Linked DNA regions of Homo sapiens: region 2 is linked to region 1. The links come from fine-mapping of genetic effects on plasma protein levels. A gene starts in region 1. The other region holds a variant in brackets. All regions are shown on one strand. Distances are from middle to middle.

What was found. A credible set is the group of variants that fine-mapping cannot tell apart. PIP is the posterior inclusion probability: the model's chance that the variant is causal. Protein levels are from antibody-based Olink assays in UK Biobank. Linkage for the fine-mapping came from a reference panel and not from the study's own genotypes, which makes the PIPs less certain.
Region 2: its variant is the best candidate, but not a certain one, in a credible set for the plasma level of the CASP10 protein (UK Biobank, PIP 0.63). The variant lies in the coding sequence of CASP10. If it changes the protein, the assay may bind it differently, which can mimic a change of level.

What each region holds. Positions count from the first base shown.
Region 1 is chr2:201,181,502-201,191,095 of GRCh38, reverse strand. It overlaps CASP10 (caspase 10), which reads right to left and starts at 7,955. Exons shown (of 10, transcript NM_032977.4): 1 at 7,788-7,955; 2 at 4,972-5,325; 3 at 3,297-3,390. The coding sequence starts at 5,318.
Region 2 is chr2:201,209,270-201,218,754 of GRCh38, reverse strand. It overlaps CASP10 (caspase 10), which reads right to left. Exons shown (of 10, transcript NM_032977.4): 9 at 9,193-9,485; 10 at 1-1,167. The coding sequence ends at 1,014. It also overlaps the pseudogene MTND5P25, the pseudogene MTND4P23 and the pseudogene MTND4LP13. Among named protein-coding and RNA genes, the nearest start is that of CASP10, 31 kb to the right of the region's middle. The variant T/C (reference allele first, on the strand shown) is at 9,271.

The sequences.
Region 1 (9,594 bases):
GAGGTCAGGAGTTCAAGACCAGCCTGGCCAACATGGTGAAACCCCACCTCTACTAAAAATACAAAAATTAGCTGGGTGTGGTGGTGGGCGCCTGTAATCCCAGCTACTCAGGAGGCTGAGGCAGGAGGATCACTTGAACCCAGGAGGCAGAGGTTGCAGTGAGCCGAGATGGCACCATTGCACTCCAGACTGGGCAACAAGAGTGAAACTCTGTCTAAAAATAATAATAATAATAATAATAATAATTCTGTAGCCACAGATGCCTTCAAGTAGAGTTCTAGAACCTGTGCAAGCAAAAGAGAAAAAAAAACATTTTCCAGCTTTTCTTGTTTGAAAACTAACACTCAGTGTTTCGAATATCAGAGATTGCTTTAACAAATGACCTTTCTCTCGTCCCTCACCCGCCACCTCATATTGTTCAGAGAGTCCCTAACATAGGACGGGGTATAACAATAAAAAGTGGTCTCATTTTATGTATAAACCTAGACACTGGAAAATTTGTGAGCGGATGCCCCAACTTGGGAGAGAATGTTATGAAAACCACCTGGAGCGCTTGTCAAACTACAGGAATCTCCTCTGACTTTGAGAAATTCTGTATTTAAGGTATAATGCTACCATTTGAGCAGGTAATTGCTTTGTACCACTGCAAATGTGGGCACTGAAATTTTACGGCAAAAGCAGAAGATCCTTACAATGTTTTATAAAAAAGAATTCCCTAAAACAAAATCGCCTGATTTTTAAAATTCTCCAAGAATTACTGAACCTTTAGGTCATGTGTGTGTGTGCATGTGTGTGTGTGTGTGTATACATATGTGTATATACGTAGTGTGTGCATATATATTTACTCAAAAGCAATGAGCATGCCAGCATCGAGTTTGTGGTCTTGAAATGACATCTCTCATTAAAAGAAGTCAGGATTTTTGGGAGAAATGAGAGATTCCAGGACTGGGTAGAAAATATACAAGATGAACCTGGGATATTTTTGCCAGATAGTAAAGAAGCCATCAAAGACTACTAAGGTCATGTCAAAATGACTTAGGAACCAAACTGAAGATGTATCCCCTGGGAAAAAATGGGACAATTGAACTATTTTTTTGAGACAGGGTCTCACTCTGTTACCCAGGCTGGAGTGCAATGGCACAGCCATTGCTCACTGCAGCCTTGACTTCTCTGGGCTCGAGCGATCCTCCCATGTCAGCCTCCTGAGGAGCTGGGACTACAGGTGCACGCCACCACACCCAGCTAATTTTTGTATTTTTTGTAGAGACCGGGTTTTGTCATGTTGCCCAGTCTAGTCTCAAACTCCTGAGGCTCAAGTGACCTGTCCACCTCAGACTCCCAAAGTGCTGGGATTACAGGCATGAGCCACCATGCCCAGCCTCAGTTTGAACTTCAGTAAGGATAATAATTGCAGTAGATTGAAATACCTCACATATGTTTAAATCCATGAGTTTAAATTTATATATATTTTGTAATGGGTCACCTTCAGAGAATGATAAGATACCAATTAACTTAAAAACTGGATAACTAGGCAAAGCACAGTGGTTCATGCCTGTAATCCCCAGAACTTTGGGAGGCTGAGGCAGGTAGATCACTTGAGGTCAAGAATTTGAGACCAACCTGGCCAAATGAAACCCTGTCTCTACTAAAAATACAAAAATTAGACAGGCATGGTGGTGCCTGCTTGTAATCCCAGATATTCAGGAGGCTGAGGCAGGAGAATCACCTGAACCTGGGAGGCAGAGGTTGCAGTGAGCCAAGATCACACCACTGAACTCCAGCCTGGATGACCAAGTGAGACACCGTCTCAAAAAAAAAAAAAAAATAACTGAAAGAAAAGAATCAAGGATTCACATATAAGCTGTATCACTGGGTAACCAAATAATGGATGAAGGGAAAACGAAATGATACAATTCTAATATGTGGCCGGGTATGGTGGCTCACACTTGTAATCTCAGCACTTTGGGAGGCCGAGACGGGTGGATCACCTAAAGTCAGGAGTTCCAGACCAGCCTAGCCAATATGGTGAAACCCTATCTCTACTAAAAATACAAAAAGTTAGCCAGGCGTAGTGGCAGGCTGCTGTAATCCCAGCTACTCAGGAGGCTGAGGCAGGAGAATCGCTTGAACCCAGGAGGCAGAGGTTGTAGTGAGCTGAAATTGTGCCATTGCACTTCAGCCTGGGTGACAAGAGTGAGACTCCATCTCAAAAAAAAAAAAAAATTCTAATATCTCCATTTTTGCAACCCCTCAAAATTCAATATATAAAATGGTTGAACATCAACAGTTGCTAATATCAAAGAAAAAGAGAGAGAAAATCAGGTACCTCCTGATGAAAAAACAAGACTACCTATAGTCTTGCCAAACGGATCTGACCTGAGTCTGATGAAGCCTCTGGATTCAGCTGCCAGTCTGCAGGAAATGCAGAGGACAGAGGAACATGCCAAACTGCACCACGAGTGTGCAATCAGCAAAACTCAGCCTGTGAGAAACTCCACAGGCCAACCGCCCAGAGATTCTTCAACAGATACATTTTAAGAAAAAGAAAGAGATTTGGGGGCAGGGAGGAAATCTAACCTACAGATTAAAAGGCACTTGAAAGAAAAAACTGGACAAGGCCAGGTGCGGTGACTCACACCTGTAATCCCAACACTTTGGGAGGCCAAGGCAGGCAGATCACTTGAAGTCAGGAGTTCTAGACCAGCCTGCCCAACAGGGTGAAACCCTGTCTGTACTAAAAATACAAAAATTAGCTGGGCATGGTGGTGCATGCCTGTAATCCCAGCTACTAGGGAGGCTGAGGTAGGAGAATGGCTTGAACCCAGGAGGTGGAGGTTGCAGTGAGCTGAGATCATGCCACTGCACTCCAGCCTGGGCAACAAGGCAAGACTTCGTCTCAAAAAAAAACAAAAACAAAAACAAAACACAACAGATTCCAACAGAAGTGAGCATTTACTGAATGCTATACCAAATATTGGCCTCATGCTAATGCTTCATGAACATTATTCCAGCTAATTCTCCCAACAATCCTAGAAGGAAGTCATACGATTGCCCACAATTTTACGTCTAAGAAAATAGAGACTCAGAAAAGTTCAATCATTGGCCTCACAGCATGGGTTTAGAATTAGAATCAGGACCAGAATCTAGGCTCATCCAGCACCAAAGCCAATGTTCGTAACCATTGTATGATACTGTCTCCCATAAAAAATAAATCTCCCTAAAAACCCTTTCCAGCATCTTTCTAATCATTGATTAAGACAGTGCTCACACAGACCCATTCTGTATGACCCACTCACCATTTCAGTTTTGGGAAGCGAGTCTTTCAGAAGGAAGATCATGTCCTTTAAGTTCTCTGAGTCAATGCCTTCTGACAGTTCGTAGAGCAGGTTTCTAAGACACACACCCAAAATGACAAATAAAGCCTTACACTTGTGGAGGACACCATAATCAATCAAGTGCTTTCATAAATGTTTTCTGTCATTTGAATGATCAACTCTATGTGTAGACAATTATTAATCCCATTTATAGGTTCAAAAAATGAAAACTTTCAGTTTCTAAGTGACTTGTTTAAATAAAGATAACACAGTAAGTGGTAGAAGCAGGCCTTCTGACTCCAAGTCTAATGCTGTTTTTCACCACACTAAGAAGGCATATTTAAAAAAAAAAAGGCATAAAACACAATTCTGACATGCCTTCCCATCTCCTGATTCCATCAAGAAATTCAGGCTTACTTTACAGGCCCTTGGTAGATAGGACCCCAGGCCAGCCAAGGTACAGTCGGTTGTATATTGAAAAGGGAAGAAAACTACCCCAGCTTCGAGATATAATCCACAACCAGAAACAGTGAGGATTTCATCCACATACTAACACCCCTATGTGTCAGAGACTGTCCCTCAGATGTTTAGCCAGCAGAATGGAAATATGGATTTCTGGAATTCATCATTCCTTCCACTGACTCAAGGGCAACTCAGGTTCTGGAAGCCAGTTCCACCGCTAAGGCTTAATGTGTTCTAATCGCAGAGACCATAAAACACCCTCCAAAGGCTCCTCTTCGTGAGGTTCTCTGATGTGGACACTATGTCAGTGAACAATTTTAAACACTGTCATCAGCCTGGCACAGTGGCTCACACCTATAATCCCAGCACTTTGGGAGGCCGAGGTGCGTGGATCACTTGAGGCTAGGAGTTCCAGACCAGCCTGGCCAACATGTTGGAAACCCTGTCTCTACTAAAAATACAAAAATTAGCCAGGTGTGGTGGTGGGTGCCTGTAGTCCCAGCTACTCAGGAGGCTGAGGCAGGAGAATCGCTCGAACCCAGGAAGCGGAGGTTGCAGTGAGCTGAGATGGTGCCACTTCACTCCAGCCTGAGTGACAGAGCGAGACTCTGTCTCAAAATAAAAATAAAACGCTGTCATCCATGATAAGACCAATGCCTAAATTTTACCTCTTTGGGCAAAATGCCTGTTTTTACCTTTCTGGATTCCCACCCAAAAATATAGAAATTTCTATAACTAGACATGGCATAAATGACATCCCTCCCTACCCCAGAAACACATCTCTTTTTTCATCTTGCTTATTTCACTCCAAGTATGCATTACTCTCTTCTCAAGACCCCGGGAAACAGGTAGACAGACTAGTGGATCCCAGGAGGGAGAAGATCTGCACGTGTAGCCGCTGGTAAGCAGGGAAAACACGGGCTCTGCCACACTGAGGTGGGCTTCACTGCTAGTGAGAAGCAAAACAAAGGGAAGCCACCTCTGGGCCCAGGGCTTGGTCTTGAAGCTTTGCTGACCTCCCAACTCTTATCTCATTAGCATCAGAGGCTGAGAAGGAGGTTTAGAATCTCCTGGTTTATCATCCAAGGAGGTAGATAACCAAAAGATCTTAACTGCAGCTTCCTTTCAAAGCCCAATGGCCAGAATGAACACTAGATGGGAGATCCTCCCATCTCCACCACAGACCCGTCCTCACCTAAACAGAGAAACCCTTTGTCGGGTGGGCAGCAGTCGCTCCACTTCCTCTTTGGTACAGTTGAGGTGCTGCAGCAGCTTCTTCTGCCGTATGATATAGAGGAGTTCTGCCAGGAAGAAAGGGTCTTCCTCACTCAGCAGATCCTCTGCCAAGAGATGTTCAAAAACATCTGAGGCTGAGCTGGACTTCTCCAGCTTCTTGTTGGGGACCAATCCTATGCAGAGAAACTTGAGGTTCTCCACATCTTGGACCCCCAGGTTTGAATCAATAATCAGAAGCTTCTCACGAAAGCTCACTTTACAGTTTTTATCTGAACTGGAATACCAATGTTGACCTTGAGATTTCATGGCCAGCCTGAAAGGGACAGAGAGGTGGGGCAGGGAGTTAGAGAGTGAGGACATATGGCCCCCTGACTTCCCAGGCCCTCCCCTCACCACAACCTTCTCCGTTCTGGGCATTAGACTTTCCTAGAAGTGCTGAAAAATAAAAATTACGGCGAGGCTACTTCAAAAAGCAACAGCCCAGAAAACTTTTCCCCAACACTTGCAAGTTACTTTTTAGGAAACTTGGAGGGTGCTTATATTGGAATTCAATTCACCTTGATTTCTCCCAAATCAAAATGTTCCCAGAGAGAGAAAGTTAAGATGGAGGGACACAGCACAATTTTTCTCAAGCCTGGTAGCCTGATTGGAGCCCTTACATTCATTTCCAGCACGTGGCAGAAATAGCACTTGGCTCTATGCTTTAAGTTTTAGACACAAAGCAATCTGGGGGAGGCAGGGTTATCCTTATGATCTATCAACCCAAAGACAGCAAGGTACCGTGAGGTATGTGTGTTACATCTTAACTTCAGACTGCTACCTGTAAGAGGGCAGGCCTTTATCTTACAGAAAGGGAAGGCATAATCCTAGACCTCAAGCCTGAGCAACATGGCGAGACCTGGTCTCTACTAAAAATACAAAAAATTATCAGGGCATGGTGGCACATGCCTGTGGTCCCAACTACTCAGGAGGCCGAGGATGGAAGGATCATTTGAGCCTGGGGAGCACAGGTTGCAGTGAGCCATGATCATGCCACTGCACTTCACCCTGGGTGACAGAGTGAGACCCTGTTTCAAAAAGAAAAATAAATAAATAAAATATCCTAGACCTCAGGAGGAAAGGGTGGTTTTAGACAAGAGTTGCTCAAATCAGTGTAGGAAGTTAAAAATTACATGAGTCGGCTGCTCTGTCTATGGAGTAGCCATTCTTTTGTTTCTTTACTTCTCTAATAAACTTGTTTTCACTAAAAAAAAACAAATTACATGAGTCAATGTTTCCATCTGATCAGTTTATAAACTATGCTATTCTCTATACTAAATTTCATCATAATCAGAGGAGCAATGCAGTGATAAAATTTTCATTGTAATACTATTTATTCTATAAGCACTTGAGGTATGTAGTCAATATGCAGAACTTGGCTATTTTTAGAAACAAGAAAATACTTTATAAAGGAAGGAACAGGTGGGGTGTCATGGCTTACGCCTATAATCCCAGCACTTTGGGAGGCCAAGGCGGGTGGATCACTTGAGGCCAGGAGTTCAAGACCAGACTGGGCAACGTGGTAAAACCCCATCTCTACAAAAAATACAAAAATTAGCCAGGCATGGTGGTGCACGCCTGTGGTCCCAACTACTCAGAGGGCTGAAGCAGAAGGATCATTTGAGCCCCGGGGATGGAGGTTCCAGTGAGCCATGATTGTGCCACTGCACTCCACCCTGGGTGACAGAGCAAGACCCTGCCTCAAAAACAAAACAAAACAACAACAAAAAAACCTCCTAGACCTCAGAAGGAAAGGGTGATTTTAGACAAGAGTTGCTCAAATCAGCGAAGGAAGATAAAAATTACATGAGTCAATGTTTCCATCTGACTAGTCTATAAACTATGGTATTCTACATACTAAATTTCATTATAATCAGAGAAGCACTTCAGGAGACTGAGGCAGGTGGATCACTGTGAGGCCAGGAATTCGGGACAAGCCTGGGCAACACGGTGAAACCCCGTCTCTACAAAAAATACAAAAATTAGCTGGGCTTGGTGGTGTATGCCTGTGGTCCCAGCTTCATAGGAAGCTGAGATGGGAGGATTGCTTGAACCTGGGAGGCGGAAGTTGCAGTAAGCCAAGATTGTGCCACTGCACTCCAGCTTGAGTGCTGGAGGGTGAAAGAGGGAGACTCCGTCTCAAATAAATAAATAGATAAATAAATAAATAAATAAATAAATAAATAAAGGAAGGAAGACACAGCAAAAATCAAAACCTCCATAACAAACAGTGGTTATATCGAGGTGACATAACTATAGATAATACAAATTTCCTTCTGGGCTTCCAATTGAATTTCTCAAATTTTATGCATATGTGAGCATACACATTACTTTTGGTGTTAAAAGAAACAAAAAAATGTCATTTTTAATGTGATAATCCAGGGGATCTTCCCTGCTACTAGCCCTGAGGTCAAATGAGTGGTTTATTGGAGACACCTTTCTATTCTACCGCATCTAGCATTTGCCTTGTGGTTTCTTGACAATTCTGATCTCTAGTTTTAGTGAGTCTACCAAACTTTGTCTCTGTGAGCTAACATATTTCTGCCCCGGTAAAAGGCTATGTTGGAGGCTTCCGGATTTTTTAACTTTTGTTTTCCCAGGCATGACAAAGAAATCTAAGAAAAAATAGTGCCATTGCTGACAAGTTTTTGCAAGTTTCTACAACACGAAGCCATGAAGCAAAGGAAAAGATTCAAGCATGAGACTCTGGAGTAAGAAGGGTTGTTAATTACATACCTTCAGATCAAGCTCCACCAATCTTCTGGAAGTAAACGGTTCTCAGGGAAATTGCCTGAAAACAAAGTTTTAAAGAAAGTAGAATCCTCTGTGTGCTCCAAGGTCCAAAGAAGCTCCCATTTGCTTGGGAAGAGACTTCAAGACTTGCTGGTTGTTTAAGTGAAAACTGAATCTTCAGGACTGGGTAGCCTGATACTAGTTTCCTGCTGATGTCATCACTGCTTATCTGCCTTTTTCCCTCCCCTTTTCCAGGGTTAAGATAACTTTGACAAACAGCGTCTCCTAAAGGCTAATTTACAACTTTCTCACTGTAGAGCTTGGGGTTTCCCCAGGTAAAGCAAAAGCTTCCTAGAAACGAACCCGTGGAAGCCACAAAGTGCTTCAGGCTTTCCTTTGGATCTCCATTTCCTTGGTAAGTCAAAAAGGGAAGCATCTGTTTTCCTAACCAACTCCTTCCCCAAACACACTTCACTTTTCAAATAAAGCCAAAAAGCTCATGAAATAGTTGTCGGCCATGTTAACCCTTTCTTATGTCCACATGCAAATAAACAATGGAGCGATCTCCACTTACCGCAACCTCTGCCTCCTGTGTTCAAGTGATTCTCCTGCCTCAACCTCCCGAGTAGCTGGGATTACAAGCATGCGCCACCACGCCCGGCTAATTTTTTGTATTTTTAGTAGAGACGAGGTTTCACCATGTTGGCCAGGCTGGTCTCGAACTCCTGAGCTTGTGATCCACCCTCCTTGGCCTCCCAAAGTGCTGGGATTACAGGCATGGAGCCACCGTGCCCGGCCCACAAATAAAATTTTTAAAAGATAAAAGAAAAGTGGGGATTCACTTTCAGTCTTTGTGGGAGAAATTAAGAAATAAAAAGAAAAAGAAAGGAAAAAAAAAAGAAAAGTGGGGATGGTGAATTACAAGCCCATTTGGAGGTACCTGCAAGAGACTCAACAAATTTGTGGTAGGCAAAACTGACAGTATGTGTTCTCACAGCACATTCAAACCAGCAGGAAAGTGAGACTTTGAAGACATTATTTCTAATCATAAAAACAATACTGCACACTAATATTGCAACTACCATGTGCCAGGGCATTTACAAATATTTACTCATTTCACCATCCCAACAACACTGTAAGATAAATACTATTACTATGACTGCTGCTTTAACATGTGAAAACTAAGGCACAGAAAGGTTAATTAATTTGCCCAAGGTCACACAGTGAGCGGCTGGAAGAGCCAAGATTTAAACCAGCAAGTTTGGATCAAAGTCACTACACTATAATTAAGCTAACTCAAATGTGCAGCACTCTGGAAAGAGGTACAGAGTCTTAGAAAGATGTTTTATCTATGGGGAAAAAAAGCAAGATTTATGATGCTTTGATTAGCAAATGTATTAAAATGTCCTTTCCATGTCCTAGGCATCATTCAGAGAACTTCTGTGCTTAAGAAAGACAAGTCCTGGGGCCAGGTGCAGTGGCTCCCGCCTGTAATCCCAGCACTTTGGGAGGCTGAGGCAGGCGGATCACGAGACCAGCTTGGCCAAGATGGTGAAACGCTGTCTCTACTACAAATACAAAAAATTAGCTGGGCGTGGTGGCACACACCTGTAATCCTAGCTGCTCGGGAGGTTGAGGCAGGATAATCGCTTGAAGGCAGGAGGTGGAGGTTGCGGTGAGCGGATATCACGCCATCACACTCCAGCCTGGGCTACAGAGCAAGACTCCTTCTCAAAAAAAAAAAGAAAAGAAAAAGACAAGTCCTGGCCAGGCACAGTGGCTCACACCTGTAATCCCAGCACTTTGGGAG
Region 2 (9,485 bases), 28 kb before region 1:
ACTGTGACCTCACTGTCCAATGTTTAAGGGCATGCAGAGGGGACACAGAATTATAACTAAGGGGTAGTTGTCTAGAGAGGCAATCTAAGCTCAATCTAGGCTAAGAACGTGGTTTTTGAACACCAAGGAACCTTAAAATGCACCTGGTCCCCAGGCCAGGCACAGTATTTCATGCCTGTAGTCCCAGAACTTTGAGAAGCTGAGGTGGGAGGATCGCTTGAGCCCAGGAGTTTGAGACCAGCTTAGGCAACATAGTGAAACCCCATCTCCACAAAAAAAATAAAAAGTTAGCTGTGCATGGACACACACCTGTAGTCTCAGCTACTTGGGAGGCTGAGGTGGGAGGATCGCTTGAACCTGGGAGGTCAAGGCTGCAGTGAACAGTGATCCCACCACTGCACTCCAGCCCAGGTGACGGAGTGACTCTGTCTCAAAGAAAAAGTACCTGCACAAACCAAAGCCAATTACTCTGTCTTCAGAATAGACATCCAAAACCAAGGCTACAATCCAAGTCTTCAATAATGAAAGTTTTCTGGCCAGGTGTGGTGGCTCGTGCCTATAATCCCAGTATTTTGGGGACAGAGGTGGGAGGATCACTTGGGCCTAGGAGTTTGAAACCAGCCTGTGCAACAAAGTGAGATCCCTCCATCTCTACAAAAAATAAAGAATAAAAAAAATCCGGGCACGGTGGTACACACCTGTGGTCCCAGCTACTTGGGAAGCTGAGGCGGGAGGACAGCTTGAGCCTGGGAGGTCGAGACTACAGTGAGCCGTGATTGCCCCCCTGCACTCCAGTCTGGGTGACAGAATGAGACTATCTCCAAAAAAAAGAAAGTTTTCTAACATTTAGACTTGCAAAAGAAAAAGAAAATCAGAATTGACTGTGTCAGAAAACACGGTGTTTCCTGTTTCTAGAATGACAGGTGGAGACCACCGATTCCTGTGCTGGGCAGGAGGCTGGAGGTTATAGCCAATGATTCGTTTGAGGTCTAAGAACCAACAAAAACTCTCTGCTATAATGAAAGTGCATCCAGGGGCACAGGGAATACTAGTTTTTTCCTTAGTGTGAAAGCAGGCTGGGGCATCTGTTTCTTTGTTCCCTGTTTGTCCACTCTTCGACTCACATCATCGTTGACAGCAGTGAGGATGGATAAGATGTCTTCATGTCTGCAACAAAGAAGAAAACAAAATTTTTTTTTACGGAGTCTCACTCTGTCGCCCAGGCTGGAGTGCAGTGGTGTGATCTCAGCTCACTGCAGCCTCCACCTCCTGGATTCAAGTGATTCTCATGCCTCAGCCTCCCGAGTAGCTGGGATTACAGGTGCCTGCCACCACAATTGGCTAATTAGTAAAGATGGGGTTTCACCATATTGCTTGCCCAGGCTGGTCTCGAACCCCTGACCTCAGGTGATCCACCCACCTCGGCCTCCCAAAGTGCTGGGATTACAGGCATGAGCCACTGTGCCTGGCCCAGAGAAGAAACTTTTTTCAGTCAGGAGGTAGAAACCACACACCAGGTCTTAGAAAAGACACCAGGTACCATGTACCAGGTCTTAGATCAACAAATATGCAGCAGATGCCACAGATACCAACAATGCCCTCTCTATCTGTAGTCTTGGGAGAGATACAAAGATAGACATGACACAATTCCTGAAGTTAACCACTTAGAATGCAGATATGAAACATTTACCGAGGATGGCATATACACAATATTCATAACACAAGGCAGAATGTGGTCAACACCAAATGAAAGGTCAAGGTTCCACTGCAAGTTCAGAGGAGAATGCATTTCTGGTTGGGAGGGAGAGAGAAGGCTTCATGCAGATGGTAGCATTTGAGCCTGGGCTTGCAGGACATATAGCATTTAGCAGAACGTTCTCAGGGTAGGCAATACATATCACTGGAAGCAAGCACAGGTTCTGAAAACACATTCAATTTTAAATTGTGGCTCCATCATTCATTCATTGTGTGCTCTTAGGCTGGTTACTCACTGCTCCATGCCTCGGTTTTCCCAGCTCTAAAATAGGAACCATAACAGTCCCCATCTTAGGGGTTGCCGAGAGCATTAAAGGATGTATATTGGGTCAAGCACTTAGAACACTGGCTACACTGTTCTGCTGACCATCATTTTTAGTATTAGTATGACTACTCTCATCCCCTCATCCTTAACTATCACTATTTTTCAGGGAAGGGATGCAGGCCCTTACCTGCTCTCAATCCCTGCATCTTGCTTTGCACCTGCTCTCTATTCCCAAATCTTCCTGTGTCTGTTTCCTTCTTATCATTTAGTCTCACCTGAAATATTACCTCCACCAAGAAACTACCATTATCCTGTTTTGATTTGTTCATGGCAGGGATCACTTCCTGAAATTGCCTCTTTTTGTTAGAGACAGGATCTCGCTCTGTTGCCCAGGCTAGAATGCGGTAATGCGATTGTAGTTCACTACAGCCTCAAACTTCTGGGCTTAAGCAATCCTCCCACTTCAGACTCCCTAATAGCTAGGACTACAGGTGCATGCCACCACACCTGGCTAATTTTTTCTTATTAATTTAAATATTATTTAAATTAATATTAAATAATAATTGAATAATAAAATTATTAAATAAATATTAAACAATTAAAATATCATTAACTTAAATATTAAACACTGAAAACTATAAAACATTGATGAAAGAAAGTGAAGAGGACACAAATAAATGGAAAGATATCTCGTGTTCATGGGTTAGAAGAATAATCTTGTTAAAATGACCATACTACCCAAGGTGACCTACAGATTTAATGCAGTCCCTATCAAAATACCAGTGACAAGCCAAGTGCAGTGGCAAATGCCTGTAGTCCTAGCTACTCAGGAGTCTGAGGTGGGAGGATTGCTTGAGCCCAGGAGTTCAAGTCTAGCCTGGACAACATAACAAGACCCCATCTCTAAAACAAAACAAAACAAAAACAAACAAAAAAATTACATTCTTCACATAAATAGGGAAAAAAACCCTAAAATGTATATGGAACCACAAAAGACCCCAAATAGTGAAAGCAATGCTGAGCAAAAAGAACAAAACTGGAGGCATCCCACCACCTGACTTCAAAATATACTACAAATCTAGAGTTACCAAAACAGCATGGTAGTGGTATAAAAACAGACACATAGATCAATAGAACAGAATATAGATCCCAGAAATAAATTCACACACCTACAGCCAACTGATTTTTGACAAAGGTGCCCAGAACACACAATAGGTAAAAGAGAATCTCTTCAAAAAACGGTGCTGGGAAAATTGAATATCCATACACAGAAAAATGAGACTAACCACTTACCTCTCACCATAAACAAAAACCAACTCAAAATGTGTAAGACTTAAATGTAAAACCTGAAACTATGAAGCTGCTGCAAGAAAACAGGGCAAACATATCATGACATTGGGTTGGGCAAGGATTTTTAAAACAAGACTTCAAAAGCACAGACAACAAAAGCAAAAATAGACAAATGAGTTTACATCAAATTAAAACCCTTTTGCACGGCAAAAAAAAAAAAAAAAAAAAAAAAACCGAGGGAAGAGACAACCTACAAAATAGGAAAAAAATTTGCAAATTATACATCTCACAAGGAGTTAATATTTAGAATACATAAGGAACTTAAATAACTCAACAGCAAAAAAACAAATAACCCCATTTAAAAATGGGCAAAAGACTTTAACAGACATTTCTCAAAAGAAGACATACAAATGGTCCACAGGTATAAGAAAAAAATAAGTAGTTTAAGGCAAAATAAATGATTTCATTAGATTATGATAGAACATACTTACCAAATGCCCTCTATTTACATAAGTATCATATTAGCATTTATCATATCACTTCTGGGGGTATTAGTCTATCAGTCCCACCTAATATCATCCCTCCTATGCCTAGAAGGAATAATATTATCATTATTCATAGTAAATACCCTTATAGCTTTAAATATACACTTCACCCTAGCAAATGTAATACCCATTACTCTACCAGTATTTGCTGCCTGCAAAGCCAGGGTAGGCCTTGCTTTGCTACTTTCAATTTCCAACATATATGGCTTAGACTACATACATAACCTAAATTTACTTCAATGCTAAAAATAACTATTCCTACAATTATACTACTACCAATAACATGACTCTCTAAAAATTATACAATTTGAATCAATATGGCTACCCACAGCCTAATCACCAGCTTCATTGCCCTATTATTCTTTAACTAATTCAACGACAATCTATTCAACTTCTCATTAACTTTCTCCTCTGATCCGCTAACATCACCCCTTCTAATCTTAACAGCCTGACTACTACCTCTTATAACTATAGCAAGCCAGTACCACCTCTCCAGTGAATCACCCCTATGGAAAAAACCCTGTATTTCCATATTAATTTCCCTACAAATTTTTCTAATCATAGCATTTACAGCCACAGAACTAATTATATTTTATATTCTCTTTGAAGCTACACTTATCCCTATCTTAATTATTATCACCCGATGGGGTAACCAACCAGAACGCCTCAATGCAGGTACATATCTCTTATTTTACACACTAGTGGGATCCCTCCCCCTACTTATTACACTTATTTATGCCCAAAATATCCTAGGCTCACTGAGCATGATAATAATAACATTTAATATCAAGAACTACCAATCTCCTGATCCAACAATCTCATGTGATTGGCATGTATAATGGCCTTCATAGTAAAAATACCCCTATACTGACTTCACCTATGACTTCCCAAAGCCCATGTATAAGCACCTAAGGCTGGCTCAATAGTACTTGCAGCAGTGCTCCTAAAATTGGGCGGCTACACAAAATGCGACTTACCCTCATCCTCAGCCCTCTGACAGAACATATAGCCTATCCTTTCCTGATATTATCCTTATGAGGCATATTATGACAAGCTCCATCTGTCTACGACAAACTGATCTAAAGTCACTTATTGCACATTCCTCCGTAAGCCACATGGTACTTGTTACTGTGGCTATCCTCATTCAAACCCCCTGAAGTTTTACCAGTGCAATTATCCTCATAATTCCCCATGGACTTACTTCGTCCCTACTATTCTGCCTAGCAAATTCAAACTACAAGTGAATCCACAGCTGAATCATATTACTCTCTCGAGGACGTCAAACATTACTTCCACTAGTAACCTTTTGATGACTTACAGCAAATCTCACCAACCTTGCCCTACCCCCCACTATTAATCTAGTAGGAGAACTCCTTGTAACAACGGCTTCATTCTCCTGATCAAACACTACCATCATGCTTATAGGACTTAATATATTAATCACAGCCCTTTATTCCCTCTATATACTTGTCACAACACAACAAGGAACACTAACATACTATATTAACAGCATTAAACCTTCCTTTACACGAGAAAACATACTAATACTCATACACCTTTCACCAATTCTCTTACTATCTCTAAATCCTAAAATTATTATAGGACTTATACCTTGTAAATATAGTTTAATCAAAATGTTAGATTGTGGTCTAATAATAGAAGTCCGCAACTTCTTATTTACCGATAAAGTTTGCAAGAACTGCTAACTCATGCCTCCATGCCTAACAACATAGTTTTCTCAACTTTTAGAGGATGAGAGTTATCCATTGGTCTTAGGAACCAAAAATATTGGTGCAACTCCAAATAAAAGTAATAATCATGTATTTTTCCATTACTATAATAACCTTAATCTCCTTAACCTTACCAATTATTATTACCTTTATCAACCCTCACAAAAAGAACTCATATCCATACTATGTAAAAATAGCTGTCGCATGCACTTTCACCATTAGCCTCATTCCCACAACATTTATGTGTACAGACCAAGAAACCATCATCTCAAACTGATATTGAATAACAATCCAAACCCTAAAACTCTCATTAAGCTTCAAACTAGACTAATTCTCCATAATGTTTATTCTAGTAGCACTATTTATCACTTGATCTATTATAGAATTCTCAATATGATATATGAAGGCAGATCTGAACATTAATCAGTTTTTCAAATACCTACTTATTTTCCTCACCACAATATTAATTCTAGTTACTGCCAACAACATTTTCCAACTCTTTATCAGATGAGAGGGTGTAGGAATTATATCTTTTCTACTAATTGGCTGATGACATGGCCAAGCAGATGCTAACACAGCAGCCCTCCAAGCAATTCTATACAATCGCATTGGTGACATTGGCTTTATTTTAGCTATAGCATGATTCCTCTCATCATCCAATACATGAGAGCCTCAACAAATACTTATCCTTAACCCTACCCCCAACCTTCTTCCATTAATTGGTTTTCTCTTAGCAGCAGCAGGAAAATCAGCCCAACTTGGCCTCCACCCCTGACTTCCTTCCGCCTTGGAAGGCCCAACCCCAGTCTCAGCCCTACTTCACTCTAGCACTATAGTTGTGGTGGGAGTTTTCCTACTTACCCGCTTCCACCCCTCAACATCACTAATCATCACGGAAATGCAAATCAAAACCACAGTGACAGCTGGGCGCCGTGGCTCACGCCTGTAATACCAGCACTTTGGGAGGCTGAGGTGGGTGGATCACTTGAGATCAGGAGTTCCAGACCAGCCTGGCCAACGTGGTAAAACCCTGTCTCTACTAAAAATACAAAAATTAGCCAGGCGTGGTGGCACATGCCTGTGATCCCAGCTACTCGGGAGACTGAGGCAGAAGAATTGCTTGAACCTAGGAGGCAGAGGCTGCAGTGAGCTGAGATTGCGCCACTGCACTCCAGCCTGACAGAGCAAGATGTTGTCTAAAAAAAAATAAAAATAAAAATAAAAAACCCACAGTGAGATGCTACTTCACTCAAGTTAGAATGGCTATTATCGAGGAAACAAAAGAAAACACATATTGGCAAAGATCTGGAGAAAAGGGAACACTTACACACTGTTGGTGGTATTGAAAATTAGTACAGCCATTATGGAAAATAGTATGCCAGTTCCTCATAAAATGAAAAATAAAAATACTATATGATCCAGCAATCCCCATACTAAGTATATAAACAAAGAAAATGCAATCAATATGTCAGAGAGATATCTGCACTCCCAGTTTACTGCAGCATTATTTACAATAGCCAAGATATGGAATCAACCTAAGGGTCCAAAAATGGATATATGGATAAAGAAAATGTGATATTTATACGTGACAGAATACCATTCAGCCATAAAAAAAGAAAATCCTGACATGTCTGACAACATGAATGAGCCCAGAGTGAAATAAGCAAGACACAGAAAAAATCTGCTTGTTCTCACTCATGTGGAATCTTTGTTTAAAAAGTTGATGTCATAGAAGCAGTGATTAGAACAGCAATTACAAAGATGAGAGAGAGAAGGAGGGAAGGGAAGATGAGAGGTTAGTCAATGGGTACAAAGTTACAATTAGATAGGAGAAATAACCTCTGGTGTTCTGCTGCACAGTGGGGTGACTATGGTTAACAGTAAGGCATTCTGAGCTGGGCACTGTGGTTTGAGCATATAATCCTAGCTACTTACAAGGCTAAGGCAGGAAGATTGCTTGAGCCTAGGAGTTCAAGGCCAGCCTCGGCAACATGGTGAGATCCCATATTTAAATCAATCGATCAATCAGTAAGGTGTTGTATATTACAAAATAGCTACAAGAGAGGCTTTTAGAGGTTCTCACCACAAAGAAATGATAAATGCATGAGGTGATGGATACACTAACTACCCTGATTTGATCATTATACAACACATATATGTATTGAAACATCAAATTATAACCCTGAAATATGTAGTTATGAAGTATCAATTAAAAATAACAGAAATTTCTGGAGTACCAAAAAAAACCACACATTGCTTAATCATGCATGTATACTGTCTCCTTTTAATATTGTTGAATTTTTAAAATAATAATAATTTAAATATTCACTTATATTTTTATTATCTGTCCTTCCTTCACTGGACTTTTAGCTCCCTGGAGAGCAGATTTTGTCTCTCTTGTACACAGTTGCACCCCCTGTCCCCAGTTCGGTACCCAGTACAGTAAGCACATAGTACGCTCTCAATAAATATTGCCTTGTTCCTGAAGCCATAGACATTAGCCTCTGATGTCTGTGATGAGAATGGAGGGGCTGGTAAAGAAGAGAGAAAAGCAAAGTTGACTCAAGGTTCCAATCCTGAATTCCCAGAAGAGCACTATGGCCATTCCTTCAAATGGAAATTCAGGAGTAGGAGCTCCTGGAGAGAGCTGGGAAGATGAGCTCAGAAACATGCATGCTGAATGTGAGGTCCAAGGGCTAAACAGAGGTAGGATATCTAGCGGGATGTTAATGAGACAGGCTCAAGCAAGTCATTCATTGGCCCAGCAAATGTTTAACAAGCTCACAATATATCAGGTCAGGGGCTGAGGATATAAAGTTGAATGAAACAGGGTCTCTGCCCCCAGGAATTCAGAGATGAGTGGGCCAGAGATGGCAACTTTGGAGACGTTTTCATGGAGGAGCCCATGGCCTCTAGGTATGGCTAAAGGTGCCAAGAGGACAGCATGTGGCAGAGACAGAAGGGAAGCTGTCAGAGCAGTGGCAAATAGAAGTCCAAAGATAGCACATAGGTGCTCAGGACGTAAGAGTGAGTGATAAATAAACGAACAAATAAAAGGCCCCCATGCTTTTGTTCATGCTATTCCCTCTGCCCAGCACATCTTTCACCTGATTCTTTACCTAACATCTATTTGTCATTTCTAGAAGCCTCCTCTGATCCTTCAAATCTGGGCAAGGTACTCATTCTGCATGTTCCCATAACACCTATACTTCACAATGTGCACTTACCAGCTGGGGATGCCCTTCCCCGTCTATTTGTTTGTCTATCCCTCTAGCTTGTAAGCAACCTGAGGGCAAGGACTCTGTCTTTTTTTAACTCTGTATCTTCCTTTCCAGGTCCAGGCTGGTACTCAATACAAGGTTGCTGGATGGATGGATGGATGGACAGATGGATGGATGGATAGATGAATGGGTGGATAGATGGATGGATAGATGAATGGGTGGATAGATGGATAAATAGATAAACAGGAGGGTAGGCAGATGGTTGAACAGGTACATGGATAGAACAACGTAGAACTCTCACCCTTACCAAAGGTGTTGAATGAGAGTAAAATAAAAAATAAATAAAACTAATTAATTACAAATGGAAGAAAAAAAAGAGCTCTCACCTTGGGACCAATTTCTTCAGATGATTACACAGAGACTGAATATACCAGCTGCCTTCCTCCACATGCCGAAAGGATACA[T/C]AGCCTGGGACAGTGGCCAGACCAAGTAGGAAGTCAGCCTCGGCAGGAATACTGTCCTGCAGGGAAGTGGGTGCCTGCTCAGGGTTCAGAGCATCTGCTTCGATGGATACGGAAGGCTGTATCTCTTCACCTTGGCAGGCCTGGATGAAAAAGAGTTTAGGTTTTTCAGCCAGTCTAGGGCACTGCAGGGCTGTGAAGTGAGACATGATCTCCCG